Linked DNA regions of Homo sapiens: regions 1 and 2 are each linked to region 3. Evidence: fine-mapped expression QTL. A gene starts in region 3. Each other region holds a variant in brackets. All regions are shown on one strand. Distances are between the middles of the regions.

What was found. PIP is the estimated chance that this variant, and not a neighbour inherited with it, causes the effect.
Region 1: its variant is fine-mapped to the expression of D2HGDH in whole blood (TOPMed, PIP above 0.99). The same link has a PIP of 0.9 or more in subcutaneous fat.
Region 2: its variant is fine-mapped to the expression of D2HGDH in whole blood (TOPMed, PIP above 0.99).

What each region holds. Positions count from the first base shown.
Region 1 is chr2:241,755,569-241,760,645 of GRCh38, forward strand. It overlaps D2HGDH (D-2-hydroxyglutarate dehydrogenase), which reads left to right. Exons shown (of 10, transcript NM_152783.5): 9 at 281-446. Among named protein-coding and RNA genes, the nearest start is that of GAL3ST2, 19 kb to the right of the region's middle. The variant C/G (reference allele first, on the strand shown) is at 3,015.
Region 2 is chr2:241,767,332-241,772,416 of GRCh38, forward strand. D2HGDH (D-2-hydroxyglutarate dehydrogenase) reads left to right here. Exons shown (of 10, transcript NM_152783.5): 10 at 379-1,480. The coding sequence ends at 638. Among named protein-coding and RNA genes, the nearest start is that of GAL3ST2, 6.9 kb to the right of the region's middle. RefSeq lists an enhancer at 3,432-4,344. The variant A/G (reference allele first, on the strand shown) is at 2,617.
Region 3 is chr2:241,731,868-241,736,947 of GRCh38, forward strand. It overlaps D2HGDH (D-2-hydroxyglutarate dehydrogenase), which reads left to right and starts at 2,763. Exons shown (of 10, transcript NM_152783.5): 1 at 2,763-2,828; 2 at 3,266-3,649. The coding sequence starts at 3,358. RefSeq lists silencers at 2,290-2,339, 2,380-3,429, 3,440-3,549 and an enhancer at 3,590-3,829.

The DNA of each region.
Region 1 (5,077 bases), 24 kb after region 3:
CGTGGAGCCTGGGACATTCACTGTCTGGGATTGATTCCAGGGTTGGAGCCACACCTGGTCTGGGGCATTCGCTGTCCTGGGTCAGAGCCCCTCCTGGTCTGGGACATTCGCTGTCTGGGGTTGGAGCCACACCTGGTCTGGGGCATTTGCTGTCCGGGGTCGGAGCCTCACCTGGTGAAGATACAGAACATGCTGCTGCCCTAACCCCGTGTGGTGTGCCCCCTGTCCCCGGGTGTCGTTCCCATAGCCAGCCCTTGTCTCATCTCGTCTCATCCTCTAGATGCTGTGGGCCCTGAGGGAAAGGATCACAGAGGCGCTGAGCCGGGATGGCTACGTGTACAAGTACGACCTCTCCCTCCCTGTGGAGCGGCTCTACGACATCGTGACTGACCTGCGCGCCCGCCTCGGCCCGCACGCCAAGCACGTGGTGGGCTATGGCCACCTTGGTGAGCGGCGCCCCGGGGCCGCGGCCCTGTGTGTGCTGGGTGGTGGGCCCCACGGTCACCGTCACCCTGCCAGGCTTCGAGGCAGGGCAGTTTGACCATGGTCTCTGGCTTAGCATATCTCCCGTAGACACTGGCAGGACCACGGTGTCTGACAGGGAAGGGAAAATCCTAATCGTTGTCATGACTCGTTTTGAGTATTTTGGAAAAGACTGCCATCGTGCACTTGTAATGGCAGAGCGCATGGCTCAGCTTGTCAGAACGTTCTGGGATCTTCAGTGGCATGCAGGGTTGGAGGGCATCAGCCTTAACCCCGGAGTCCGGGATGCGGGTCTCAGGGGCTCCTCTCACAGGGCCCGGCCCCGAGGCCTTTGCAGTGCTTAGCCCCCAGCTGCTCTACCCCTTCAGATGGGAGGATTTCAAAACCACGTTCAGATCATCTTTTTTCTGCAGAAAAATCATGCTTTAACGTGTAAGCTATTAATTCATAGGAAGAAAATGTTTCAATCCTATCAGTTCTTTTTTTTGAGACGCAGTTTCACTCTTGTCACCCAGGCTGGAGTGCAGTGGCGCAATCTCGGCTCACTGCAACCTCCATCTTCTGGGTTCAAGCAATTCTCCTGCCCCAGCCTCCCGAGTCTCTGGGATTACAGGCGTCCACCACCAGGCCTGGCTAATTTTTGTATTTTTAGTAGAGACAGGGTTTTGCCATGTTGGCCAGGCTGGTCTTGAACTCCTGACCTCTGGTGATCTGCCCACTTCGGCCTCTCAAAGTGCTGGGATTACAGGAGTGAGCCACCGTGCCCAGCTGTTTTCCTGTCAGTTCTTTGGAGCCTTGGAGCGAGGTGTCTAAAAGGCCAGCTTATAGGGCAGGGGTGGGGGCAGTGCTGGGGGTGTGGAGCATGGCTTTGGGGCCTGACAGATATTCACTCTGGCTTCTTCCCTGGCCTGGTGGCACTGGAGTCACTGACCTGAAGCCTCCATCCATCTGCCAGTAAATGGGATTCAGGTGCCACCTCTGTGGTTACAGGAGGGTCTAGGGTTGTGTACGTGACGACAATAACACGTATTACTTACGAAGGTCCCGTGCTGTCCCAGGCATTATTCTAAGCACTTGATGTGGAGAAACTTCTCTGCACAACAGCTTTTAGGACTGGTGGTGTTGCTTCCCTTTTACACACATGTAAACAGGTTCAGAGAATTTAAGTAACTTGCCCAAAGTTGCCCAGCCTGTGGAGGGGTACATCTGGAGGATTTGACATAGGATGGATGGTAATCTTCTGTGATAGGAAGGCAGGACTCCTGAATGGGAAGGGGGTAAGGGCATGATGAGTGTGTCATCATCCAGAGAAGAGGGGTACGGGAGCCCCAGTATTTCAGAATATGGGAAGGGGGTAAGGGCATGATGAGTGTGTCATCATCCAGAGAAGAGGGGTACGGGAGCCCCAATATTTCAGAATATGGGAAGGGGTTAAGGGCATGATGAGTGTGTCATCATCCAGAGAAGAGGGGTACGGGATCCCCAATATTTCAGAATATGACCTCAAGCCAGGAGGAGGCTTCCTCCTCTCCAGGTAACTTCAGTCTCTCTTGGCCACAGATAAAGCAGACCATCTTGGTGAGAAATGGAATGAGCCCTCTGTTACTTTGTAAAAGCAAGAATGGGCCAGGCGCAGTGGTTCATGCCTGTAATCCCAGCACTTTGGGAGGCTGAGGCGGGTGGATCACCTGAGGTCAGGAGTTCGACACCAGCCCGGCCAACATGATGAAACCTCGCCTCTACTAAAAATACAAAAAATTAACTGGGCATGGTGGCAGGCACCTGTAATCCCAGCTACTCGGGAGGCTGAAGCAGGAGAATCACTTGAACCCAGGAGGCGGAGGTTGCAGTGAGCAGAGGTTGCACCATTGCACTCCAGCCTGGGTGACAAGAGTGAAACTCCATCTCAAAAAAAAAAAAAAAAGCAAGAATGAATGTTGAATTTTTAAAATGTGTTTCCTGCATCTGTCATGGTGACCGGGTGCTTGTCTGCCTGTAATCAGTGTGGTAAGTTACACTGATTGATCCCTCTGGAGTCAGATGAGTCTGTGTTTCTGGGGTAGGCCCAAGGTGGCCATGATCCTTTCTGTATCTTGCTGGATGAGTTTGTTTATGTTTGGTGTGGGATTTTGACAGGGGTCTTGGTGGATGATTCTGTTCCACGCTGTTCCTTTCTTCTGTCCATGCTGGATTTTGGTATCAAAATCATAACATGAATATTATGCAGAACTTGCCAGTGGAGCTGTTTGGGCCTGGAGGTTTTTTTGAGGGAGTATTTTAAAATTATAGCTCAGCTTCTTCAATAGCTTTAGGACTTTCAAGCTTTCCTTTCTTCTAGATTGGTATTGCTAATTTTTTCCCATATTGGCATAAAGTTGTTCGAATATTCTTTTGTTGTCTTTTTATGTAGCATTTGTGGGATGCCCCCACACCCTTTTTTTTGGTGGGGACAGGGTCTCGCTGTCACCCAGGCTGGAGTGCAGTGGCTCACCACAGCCTCGACCTTCTGGGATCAAGCAGGCCCGCCACCT[C/G]ACACACACCAGCAGGCCTGGCTAACTAAAAAAAAATTTTTTTGTAGGCCCGGTGCAGTGGTTCACGCCTATAATCTCAGTACTTCAGGAAGCCAAGGCTGGAAGGATCACTGGAGTCCAGTAGTTCTAGACCAGCCTGGGCAACACAGTGACATCTGATCTATACCGCCCCCCGCCCCACAATATATGTGTGTGTGTGTGTGTGTGTGTGTGTGTGTGTGTGTGTGTGTAGAGCCAGACTCATGTAGAGCCAGTTGTGTGGCCGGACCGGTCTTGAACTCCGGGGCCTCAAGCAAATGCTCCCTCCTTGGCCTCTCAAAGCCAGAGATTACAGGCGTGAGGTACTGTGCCTGGCATTATTTGCTGCTTGCATTATCATTCCTTCTTTGACCGATGAGTTATGCAGAAGTGTGTTTCTTAATTTCCAAACGTGGTGGTTTTCTAGTTATTTTAAAAATTATTGATTTCTTTTTTATTGCATTATACCCAGGAAACTTCGTCCTTATCAGATCAGATTTTTGAAACTTGATCAGTGGCAGCTTATGATCAGCCTTCGTAACTGTGGAGTGCTTGAAAAGAATGTGCTCTCTGCAGTTGCTGGAATCAGTGTTTGTACAGATCCATCAGATAGAAGTATACGTCGCGTGTTCATTCTACATCCTGCTGACCTGCCACTCCCTGAGGGAGGTGTTAGAAATCTGCTGACAACAGACTAATCTGTTCCTCCTGTAGCTTTGCCAGTTCTGGAGACGTGTTCTTAGGGGCATAGGACATGAGGTTCGTCTCTTTGTTTTGGGAAACTGAATCTCCTAACGCGATGGACTCGCTCTTTATCTCCAGCATTGCCCGCTGCCTTGGTGTCTGCTTTGTTTATTACACAGTGATGCTAACTTTCTTTTATTTAGTGTTTGCCTGATGTGTTGTTTTTCCTCCGGTTAGCTTCAGCTTTTCCATCCTTAGTGATTTAGATGTGTTTCTTGTGGACGCCCCCGGACAGGTTTCTTGCGTACTTGTTTGCCGTCTTGAATGAGAGCGTTTGGCTGCTGAGCACGTGCTGTGGCCCACTGTTTGGATTTGTCTACTTCACCCTGCTCTTTGTCTCTCACTTCTTGTCTATTTTTTCCTCTGTTTTTTGCTCTTCTGGTTTATGTTCTTTGTCATTTAGCTTTTTGCCGTTTACTAACTGTTGGTGGTCGCCCTGGCACCACAGTGGACATTTCTAGCCCTCTGGGTTTGAGGTTAATCAGAGTCACTATCTTCCTCCCAAATAATGTGTGATGGTGAATTCTCTGCGTCCACTTGTCTGGGCCCTGGTACCCTCGTTTGGTCAAACTCCAGTTTGGATGTTTCTGTGAAGATATTTTTTATGTGTGATTAACATTTAAATCAGTAGACGTTGAGTACAGGAGATCTCCCACCACAGTGTGGGTGGGCCTTACCCAATCAGTCGAAGGACTTCGCCACAGCGTGGGTGGGCCTTACCCAGTCGAAGGCCTTCGCCACAGCATGGGTGGGCCTTACCCAATCAGTCGAAGGACTTCGCCACAGCGTGGGTGGGCCTTACCCAATCAGTCGAAGGCCTTTGCTACAGTGTGGGTGGGCCTTACCCAATCAGTCGAAGGACTTCGCCACAGCGTGGGTGGGCCTTACCCAATCAGTCGAAGGCCTTTGCTACAGTGTGGGTGGGCCTTACCCAATCAGTCGAAGGACTTCGCCACAGCGTGGGTGGGCCTTACCCAATCAGTCGAAGGCCTTTGCTACAGTGTGGGTGGGCCTTACCCAATCAGTCGAAGGCCTTTGCCACAGCGTGGGTGGGCCTTACCCAATCAGTCGAAGGCTTTTTGCCACAGCGTGGGTGGGCCTTACGCAATCAGTTGAAGGCTTTTTGCCACAGCGTGGGTGGGCCTTACCCAGTCAAAGGCCTTTGCCACAGCGTGGGTGGGCCTTACCCAATCAGTCAAAGGCCTTTGACACAGCGTGGGTGGGCCTTGCCCAATCAGTCGAAGTCCTTCGCCACAGTGTGGGTGGGCCTTACCCAATCAGTCGAAGTCCTTTGCCACAGT
Region 2 (5,085 bases), 35 kb after region 3:
GGGAGTAGGAAGAGGGGGGAGAAGTTGGGGAGATGGGAGCCCCGGGCTGAGGGAGTAGGAAGAGGGGGGAGAAGTTGGGGAGATGGGAGCCCCGGGCTGAGGGAGTAGGAAGAGGGGGGAGAAGTTGGGGAGATGGGAGCCCCGGGCTGAGGGAGTAGGAAGAGGGGGGAGAACTTGGGGAGAGAAGCAGGGAGAAGCCAAGGTAGCAGCGGCCCCAGAGGAGGGGTCGGCACGTCCAGGGCGAGTGGCATGAGGGTGAGGCTCAGCCGGGGGTCTCGGGGTTGCTGGGGAGGGGATCTTGGGAGGGGCTGTTGGGGGAGGAGTGGGGTCCTGGGGGCTGCCCTGCCCAGCCTGACCCATGTGCCCTTGTCCCTCCAGGAGATGGTAACCTGCACCTCAATGTGACGGCGGAGGCCTTCAGCCCCTCGCTCCTGGCTGCCCTGGAGCCCCACGTGTACGAGTGGACGGCCGGGCAGCAGGGCAGCGTCAGCGCGGAGCACGGAGTGGGCTTCAGGAAGAGGGACGTCCTGGGCTACAGCAAGCCACCGGGGGCCCTGCAGCTCATGCAGCAGCTCAAGGCCCTGCTGGACCCCAAGGGCATCCTCAACCCCTACAAGACGCTGCCCAGCCAGGCCTGACGGCCACTCCTGCTGCTGCCAAGGCCCACTGGGGGTCGGCGGGTGGCTCTCGGGCGGGGGTGTTGCGGTGGCTCTGAGGGATGAGCCGGCAGTGGGCAGGGGACCAGGCACCTGGTTGAAGGGACTGGGAGCCCGCACTGGGGAACTGCCGGACGCAGGCCCTCGGGCAGGAGCATCTGGCAGAGTGGGGGGCGTGGCAGGCACCCTCCTTTGCAGGGCGAGGTGGGGCCTCTGCAGCCATCCTGGACAGGCCGGGGTGGCGGCAGCTTTGCCCACGTGGAAGCGGGGTGGGTCTCACTTGCGTGGTGGCCCCTGGCCCCATCTTGCCTGCTGCGGCCTGGGGAGCAGGCGCTGGGTGGTGGTTCTGCCTGCTTGCTGCTCGTTCCCCGGGCATGCGTGGGCAGCGGGGGGCATGCGTGGGCAGCAGGGGGCGTGGGCAGCGGGGGCACGGGCAGGACCACGTGGGCCGTGATCGTGGGTTGCCGAGAGGACCTGAGCGCTGCGGCTCTGCTGAATGGAGCCGGGTCCCTCAGGCCGTGGACGCCCTCGGGAGGGGGGTGACTGTGGCTTGTGTCTGGACAGGAATGTGTCATTTCCCACATCTTCTAGAGGGCTGCCAGCTGGGAAGACAGTTATCAGGGCAAGCTGTGCTCTGAGTTTCGGGTTCTGCTCCTACAAAGAACGTGCGGTGCTGCGGGCGAGGGCCCCGGCACGGACAAGGGCCACTGCAGAGTGTGTTTCTGCTCGTCAGCTGCCCTGGGCAGCGGATGGGCTGGGCGATGCAGCTGGATGCACATCTCATTCTGTCATGAATGTCCAGTAAAAATCTGAATTGGTTGCAACCTTCTCTTTGCTTCTGTTACTGGAAAATCATCTTTCAGAGCCCATTGTGAAGGGCCTGTGCATCCCATTCCCACAGCCCCTGGACCACTGGGGCCATAGTGTGGCCGGGCCTGACACTACTGTGACTGTCACTGTGCCTCCTGTCCCCATGCACTGTCTGGTGGCAGCTGAGCTCCCACCGGCTGCACAGGGCAGGCCTGGACATGGAACGGGCAACTCATAACCCTTGGTGGCCCTGGAGGCCCTCAGCAGCTGGGCCTGACCGAGGTGTATCCACGGGCCCCTCCTGTCCCTGTGGGTGTCGAGGACCTCGGATCCTGCTCAGAGGGGGAAACATACCTCTGACCCGCTGCCCTGCAGAGCCCGCCTGCCTAGCCAGGGCCTCTGTGTGGACAGGCCACGTCCTCCTGGTGGAGGTCCTCGGGGGATGGGTGGGGGCCTTGGTCCAGCATGATTTTTTTTTTTTGAGACAGGATCTCACTCTGTCACCCAGGCTGGAGTGCAGGGGTATAGTCACAGCTCAGTGCAGCCTCCACCTCCTGGGCTCAAGTGATCCTCCCACCTCAGCCTCCTGAGTAGCTGGGAGTACAGGTGTGAGCCATCATGCCCAGATAATTTTTTTTTTTTTTTTTGAGACAGAGTCTTGTTCTGTCACCCAGGCTGGAGTGCAGTGGTGCGATCTTGGCTCACTGCAAGTTCCGCCTCCCGGGTTCACGCCATTCTCCTTCCTCAGCCTCCCGAGTAACTGGGACTACAGGTGTCCACCACCGTGCCCGGCTAATTTTTTGTATTTTTAGTAGAGATGGGGTTTCACCTTCTTAGCCAGGATGGTCTTGATCTCCTGACCTCATGATCTGCCCGCCTCGGCCTCCCAAAGTGCTGGGATCACAGGCATGAGCCACCGCACCCGGCCATGCCCAGATAATTTTTAAATTTTTTTTTTTGTAGAGATGAGGTGTCCCTGTGTTGCCCAGGCTGGTCTTGAACTCCTGGCCTCCAGCGGCCTCCCACCTCAGCCTCCCAAAGTGCTGGGATTACAGGCCCGAGCCTCTGCGTCCAGCCGATCCAGCATGCTTTGAAGGCACAAATCAGGGGCACTTTCATGCTGGCCCAGCAGAGCCAGTGGGTCCCGCCC[A/G]ATGCCTGGGCTACTTCCTGCTGTGCCTGGGGGCACCTGGGGCTGTCCTGCCTCACTGGCCAAGGCCCGGCTCTGTCCCTGGGCTCTGGCCACTGTTCTGCCATCCCAGGCTGGGTACCCATGGGCAGCCCGACAGTATCTGTTGCACAGAGCAGACCCCAGGCCCCATGGGTGCCTGACACGAAGCCCCACAGCGTGTGCCCGCGTCCCCCGAGGTCAGCCGGCGGCTCCTGCCCTTCCCTCTGACCTCTGGTTGGGGGCCGGCCATTTTTCTGCTTGTTCCTCTAGCTCTGCTACTGGGCACATGGTCCGTGCTGGGTAGGCTGCAGGCCAGGGTGAGTTGCTGACCCGCTGACCCTGGCTGTGCACCTGCCCTCCTGCCCTGGGTGGCTGCTGCTGGCCCAGGGGTGACTTGGGGGCTTTCAAGCTTCTGCCCGTGCTGGCCGCACGACCCCACGTCCCACCCTGGGTAGGGACTTGTGATTCTCAGAGCTGGGGTCCGTTGCTTTCCTAAGGACCTCCGGCCCTGGTCGTGGTCTAAATGCTCACTCCTGTTGTTGGAGAGGCCAGCCGGGTGACAGGGAAAAGCCCAGAGCCCCGGGCTTCCCGTGAGGATCTGGGCTCAGCATGGGCTGTGGGGCTGCAGAGGCCTGGCCTTGCCTGCTGAGGGACACCCGCTGGTAGTGCCTGCAGAGGGGGGAGGAGGAATTCCTCCCCCTAGTGCCCTCTGGACCCTGGGAGAGCAAGACCTCTGCATCCACACTGCCTTCCGCTGGGCCTCTGGGGACTGGGGAAGCGGACACAGTCCAGGACTGTTGGAGGAGGAAGAGGCTGCGGCTGCTCTTCCCTGGGGGTCCGGCTCCAGGAGGCTGCGGTGACCGTTGGGCCGGAGCAGGCCAGTGCCGGGCACGTCCTGCCCATGACAGCCCTGCTGCCAGCCGTGGGCACTTGTTCCTGGAGCTCCGTGGCTGGGTCCTGCCGTCTCCGCTGCTGCCCTGCCCTGCCATGTTCACCTCCAGTTTATCCAGCAATGGGGAGAGGGGCTTCTTAGATCCCCCTCAGGCTTTTCTTTTGTGCCTTTAGATATGTGAAATACAACACAGCCAGGCAAAGCAGGTGCCGGTGAGACACCTGGCTGGCCCGAGCTGGCCCGAAGAACTGCCTGTCTGCCATGAGGAAAACCCACACTGCGTGGTGGCTGGGAGGCCAGGAGTTTTCACAAGCCGGAAACCTGTTAGATTTCTCTACCTGACAGCAGGAAAATCTGATGAGACCCGATCGCATCCAGGCAGGCCGTGTTCTCGCAGCCCGCGGGTTAACACAGACTCCGAGTGACTCCGACGCAGGAGAACGCGGCGAATCTGCGTGAGGCAGGCCACCAGCCTTGGTGCCCCGGAGACAGCTCCCCCAACGGCCATGTGACGGCGTTGAGTGTCCGTGGTCAGGTGTGTGTAAGAGACGCGCAGAGAATTCCACGCCGTCCCAACCTCCCAGCCGGAGGCTCTGACGAGGCCTGCAGCCACGCGGAAAGAGCAATGAGGAGCACGTGTGTGGGGAGGAAGGCGGGTTCTGGCCCCGTTCCTTCCGCAGCAGCTCCGGCCTGGCGGGTTCTGACGGAATTCTGCAGCGGCTCCAGCCAGGGTCGTCGGGGCGGGGTGGGTGCTCAGGGGCGGCCTTTGTGTTCGGATTAGAAGCTGGTGATTGTCACATTAAGACCTCTAAGCTGCTGCAATCTGAGAAGATGTTACACAACCAGGGCCCCTGAGCTGAGGCCAAGGAGGGGGCCAGGAGAGTGGTGGGAGGGGCCCCAGGCAGGGCCAGAGCTGCCTGTGTACAGCAGGGGAGAGGGGAGAAGGGGTGGGCCGGGTGGTCTCAGCCCCAGGGAGAGTGGAGTGCCCGCCCCTCCCCTCCCCCAGGACGGCTGGCCCCTGGGAGAGCCCCTGGGGGAGCCAGTTTCCTGTAAGCAGAAGGGCAAGTGGTTGGGACCCAGAGGTGTCTGACAGTTGTGGACTTAGAGCCCAGAGGAAGGGTTTGGGGTTTGGGGCTCCTGGGACGCCGCAGGCCCCTGAGGACGTCCATCAGGATCCTGGCAGTGTGGAGGTGTAGGGTCCAGCCCTACGGGGCTTAGCGGGTGTTTTCCCTGTGTGTGGAGATGAGGGATTGTAATAAATAAAGACACAAGATAAAGAGAGAAAGAGAAAGCAGCTGGGCTCTGGGGACCACTACCATCAAGACGCGGGGACCAGTAGTGGTCCCAGAGGGCTAGGCCCACTGATATTTATTGCATACAAGACAAGGGGGCAGGGTAAGGAGGGTGAATCTTCTCAGTGATTGACAAGGTGAAGTAAGTCATGTGATTACAGGATAGGGGGCCCTTCCCTTTTAGGTAGCCGAAGCAGAGACGGAAGGCAGCAAACGTCAGCATTTTCTTCTCTGCACTTATAAGAAAGATCAAAGACTTTAAGACTT
Region 3 (5,080 bases):
TTTTTTTGAGACAGAATCTCACTCTGTCGCCAGGCTGGAGTGCAGTGGCGTGATCTCAGCTTACTGCAACCTCTGCCTCCCAGGTTCAAGCCATTCTCTTGCCTCAGTCTCCCAAGTAGCTGGGATTATAGGCACCGACCACCATGCCCAGCTAATTTTTGTATTGTTGGTAGAGACAGGGTTTCACCATGTTGGCCAGGTTGGTGTAGGGACCAGCCCCACAGGGTCGGTGGGTCTCTCCCCATGTGCGGAGACGAGAGAGTACAGAAATAAAGACACAAGACAGAGATAAAAGAAAAGGCAGCTGGGCCTGGGGGACCACTACCATTAAGTTGCGGAGACCGGTAGTGGCCCCGAATGCCAGGCTGCACTGATATTTATTGGATACAAGACAAAGGGTCAGGATAAGGAGAGTGAGCCATCTCCAATGATAGGTAAGGTCATGTGGGTCACGTGTCCACTGGACAGGGGCCCTTCCCTGCCTGGCAGCCGAGGCAGAGAGAGAGAGGAGACAGAGAGACAGCTTACGCCATTATTTCTGCTTATTAGAGACTTTTAGTACTTTCACTAATTTTGCTACTGCTATCTAGAAGGCAGAGCCAGGTGTACAGGATGGAACATGAAGGCGGACTAGGAGCGTGACCACTGAAGCACAGCATCACGGGGAGACGGTTAGGCCTCCGGATAACTGCGGGCGAGCCTGACTGATGTCAGGTCCTCCACAAGAGGTGGAGGAGTACAGTCGTCTCTAAACTCCCCCGGGGAAAGGGAGACTCCCTTTTCCGGTCTGCTAAGTAGCGGGTGGTGTTTCTTGACACTTTTCGCTACCGCTAGACCACGGTCCGCTAGGTAACGGGTGTCTTCCCAGACGCTGGCGTCACCGCTAGACCAAGGAGCCCTCTGGTGGCCCTGTCTGGGCATAACAGAAGGCTCGCACTCTTCTGGTCACTCCTCACTATGTCCCCTCAGCTCCTATCTCTGTATGGCCTGGTTTTTCCTAGGTTATGATTGTAGAGCGAGGATTATTATAATATTGGAATAAAGAGTAATTGCTACCAACTAATGATTAATGATATTCATATATAATCATATCTAAGATCTATATCTGGTATAACTATTCTTATTTTATTATACTGGAACAGCTCGTGTCTTCGGTCTCTTGCCTCGGCACCTGGGTGGCTTGCCGCCCACAGTTGGTATCGAACTCCTGACCTCAGGTGATCCACCTGCCTCAGCCTCCCAAAGTGCTGGTATTATGGGCGTGAGCCACCGTGCCTGGTCAGAAAAATCAGTTATTTTAGGGGATGGTATGGGTGGTAATCTTTATGGGTTTTGAATCATTCCTAATCCCAGGGGTCCAAGATGCCACTGGCCTGCTAGTCAAAGGGAGGGCGTGTGGAGGTCAGGTGGTAAGGGGGTCCACAGACCTCATCTGTGGTCGTCTTTCCAGTTCCTGAATGTGTAATTGCAACAGTTACCCTTGACAATGGGCAAACTCCCACACTCATCTGCAGAGCAAGGGCCAGCCAGGTAGGAAGGGCCAGGTGGATGTCTCCTTTCCAGGGTTGTATGAATGATTCACCTGGGAAGAAGGTGAGTGGCCTCTGGGGATGTGGTTAAGGAGGACAGGAATGACTCCTTGCAACTGCTGCTCCAGAGCCTCATCACCAGGACAAATCCAGCTCGCCGGTTTTCTGTGTGACTACCAGGACCCATCTGCTGTCACGGGCGTAGCCTCCACCTCTTGCACAGCTCCGCAGTCCTGCCTCGGGCCAAGTGTGGTCTCCTGCTCTCTGCCCTCATCTGCTCAGAGATTGGCATCCTCTGCACCCGCTAGGGTTCTATGGAATTGGGTGAGCTGAAGTAACAAGTGCTTTGGGAGGCCGACGCGGGCGGATCGCTTGAGTCCAGGAGTTCGAGACCAGCCTGGGCAGCACATGAGACCTCATCTCTACAAAAATACAACAACAACAAAAAATTAGCCGGGTGTGGTGGTGCACGCCCGTAGTCCCAGCTACTTGGGTGGCCGAGGTGGGAGGATGGTTTGAGCTCGGGAGGCAGAGGTTGCAGTGAGCTGAGATCAACCCCAGAACTCCAGCCTGGGCAACAGAGCTAGACCCTGTCTCAAAAAAACACAAAACAAGTGCTGGCGATGCCTCAGGCAGGGGATCCCAGGCCGGGAGGCTCCTCGGGACAGCAGTTACTGCGTCAGGAGGGCAGGAGCTCCCCAGGTGTGCAAAGGGTTTGAGGGCACGGAGGGCTGAACAGGCAGAAGGGACAGGGAGGCAAGAAAACACCTGCAGGAGGCAGCTGCCCCCTAAGCTAAGGCTGGGGACCCAGGAGGGGTGGTCCGTGCAGGAGCTGGGGAGGCCGCTGGGGAAAGGGGCGCCCCCTGGGCTCGGCCTCGGAGGAGCGGGCCGGCCCCCAGGTCCCTCGGCCGAGCCCACGTCCCGGGCCTCGTTCTGGAGAACCCTCCAGCTGCTGCTTGGGCGTCTTGGGCTGCGCTCAGCCTAGTCCCTTCTCTACCTGGAGGGATGCGCCCGACAGCCGGCGCGCCGGAGGCCCTCAGGAAACGCAGGACGAGGCGGTGGCCGTCGAGCCTCCGGTGCCAGTCGGGGCGGGGCTTGGACGGCGGGGCGGGGACTGTAGGCGCGCAGGGCTGGGCCTGGAGGGCAGGCGGGGCGGGGCCCGTTAGGCGCGCGGGGCGGGGCTTCGGCCGCTGGGCGGAGCCGTCAATGCGCAGGCGCGGCGTCGCCCCGCCCACTCCGGCTCGGCGGCTCTGGGCCTGCGGCGGGCGCTGCGGGTTGGAGCTCGGGACGTGATCGTGGGTGCGTGCGCGCGGCCGCGCGGAGCGCTGGGCTGAGGGTCCCGGTCTGCGGTTCAGCCGCGGGTCGGGGTGGCGGGGCGCGATCTCGGGCGCCGTCAGCCAGTCGGTGCCTGTGGGGGGAGGGGGACGGCGCTGCAGCTCGTCACGTGACCGCGTGGAACACGCGCGCGCGTCCGCGGGATCCCCTCGGGGGGCGAGCTCGGAGGAACGGGGTCCTGGGCAAGGTCCCGGCGAGGCCGCCCCGAGCCTGCGCGTCGCTAAGTCCAGGCCTGCTGCGTGGGGCTTCGCGCGCTCGCGGGGTTGCGGCCCGGGCAGGGGGAGGGCCCGGGTGCTCGGAGCCTTCCCTTCGCTGCCCTCCTGCCCCCTCCCTGCTTCTGCAAGCGTGTTTCAATTTGTACAACGTGCATAAAACATGAAATTACCCTTGGCCACTTCCAGGCGCGCAGCCAGCGGCTCCCTGCCCTTCCCCTCCGGGCCCTGAGTACCGGCCCCCCACCAAGGAGGAGCCCGAGGTCTCCGTCCCGGCGGCGATGCTGCCCCGTCGGCCTCTGGCGTGGCCCGCGTGGCTGTTGCGGGGTGCTCCGGGAGCCGCGGGTTCTTGGGGTCGGCCGGTTGGCCCCCTGGCCCGCAGAGGCTGCTGCTCCGCCCCGGGGACCCCCGAGGTGCCGCTGACCCGGGAGCGCTACCCCGTGCGGCGCTTGCCGTTCTCCACGGTGTCTAAGCAGGACCTGGCCGCCTTTGAGCGCATCGTGCCCGGCGGGGTCGTCACGGACCCGGAAGCGCTGCAGGCTCCCAACGTGGACTGGTTGCGGACGCTGCGAGGTGGGTGAGGCTTGGGAAGCTGCGGCGTTTCCGCGTCCCTGCTCCGCTGCGCCTTCCCGTGGAGGCTTCAAAGCGGGCTGAGAACAACCTGGATGGGGGTGCCAGCCCCTGGCTGCGCTGAGAGGGGCGTGTGCACCGCCACAGGCTGCTGGAATGAATGACCACGAACGAGTCGCTTAGAACAACCCAAGTTTTGTTGTTGTTGTTGTTTTGTTTTTTCTTTTTTTTAAGACGGAGTCTCACTCTGTCGCCAGGCTGGAGTGCAGTCACGGAGTTTCACTCTGTCGCCAGGCCGGAGTGCAGTGGCGCGACGTCGGCTCACTGCCACCTCTGCCTCCCGGGTTCAAGCGATTTGCCTGCCTCAGCCTCCCTAGTAGCTGCGACTACAGGCGCCCGCCACCACGTTCCGCTAATTTTTGTATTTTTAGTAGAGACAGGGTTTCACCATGTTGGCCAGGATGGTCTCGATCTCTTGACCTCGTGATCCGTCCGCCTCGGCTTCCCAAATTGCTGGGATTACAGGCGTGAGCCACCCCGCCCTGCCAACAACCCAAGTTTGCCTGGCGCAGTGGCTCTGCCTGTAATCTCAGCTGCCCTGGAGGCTGAAGCCAGGAGTTCAAGACCAGCCTGGGCAACATAGCCAGAACCCCCGCCCCACTCACCTCTAAAAATAAAAATAAATAAATAAAAGTAGCCGGCCCAGGATTGAAAAAACAAAAAGTAAAAAAGTTACTCCAGCCCAGGAGTTCCAGTTTTAGTGGACTATGATCTCACCACTGCATTCCAGCCTGGGCAACAGAGCAAGACTACATCTCTAAAACAAAACAGAATTCCCCTCCCCACCAAACCCCACAAGTTTGTTCTCTAAGCTCTGGAGGCCAAAAGTGTGAAATCAGGGTATCACAGGGCTGCGCTCCCTCCAAAGCCTCCAGAGGAGGCTCCTTCCTGCCTCTTGTAGCTCTAGCTCCTGGTGGCCCCAGGTACCAAATTACTCCAGTCTCTGCCTCTGTTTTTCATACAGGTTTTTCTTCTCTGTGACTCTTCTCCAGTTGTCTTATAAAGACACTTCTCATTGGATTGAGGGCCCACCCTAATCCAGGATGATCGTATCTCAGTACTGTCAACTTAATTACATCTGCAAAGACCGTTTATCCGTTTTTTTTTTTTTTGGAGATGAAGTCTCACTCTTTTTGCCCAGGCTGGAGTGCAATGGTGCAATCTTGGCTCACTGCGACCTTCCCCTCCTGGGTGTAAGCAATTCAGCCTCCCAAGTAACTGGGATTACAGGTGCCCGCCACCATGCCCGGCTAATTTTTGTATTTTTAGTAGAGACGGGGTTTCACCATGTTGACCACGCTGGTCTCGAACTCCTGACTTCGGGTGATCCACTCACATTGGCCTCCCAAAGTGCTGAGATGACAGGCATGAGCC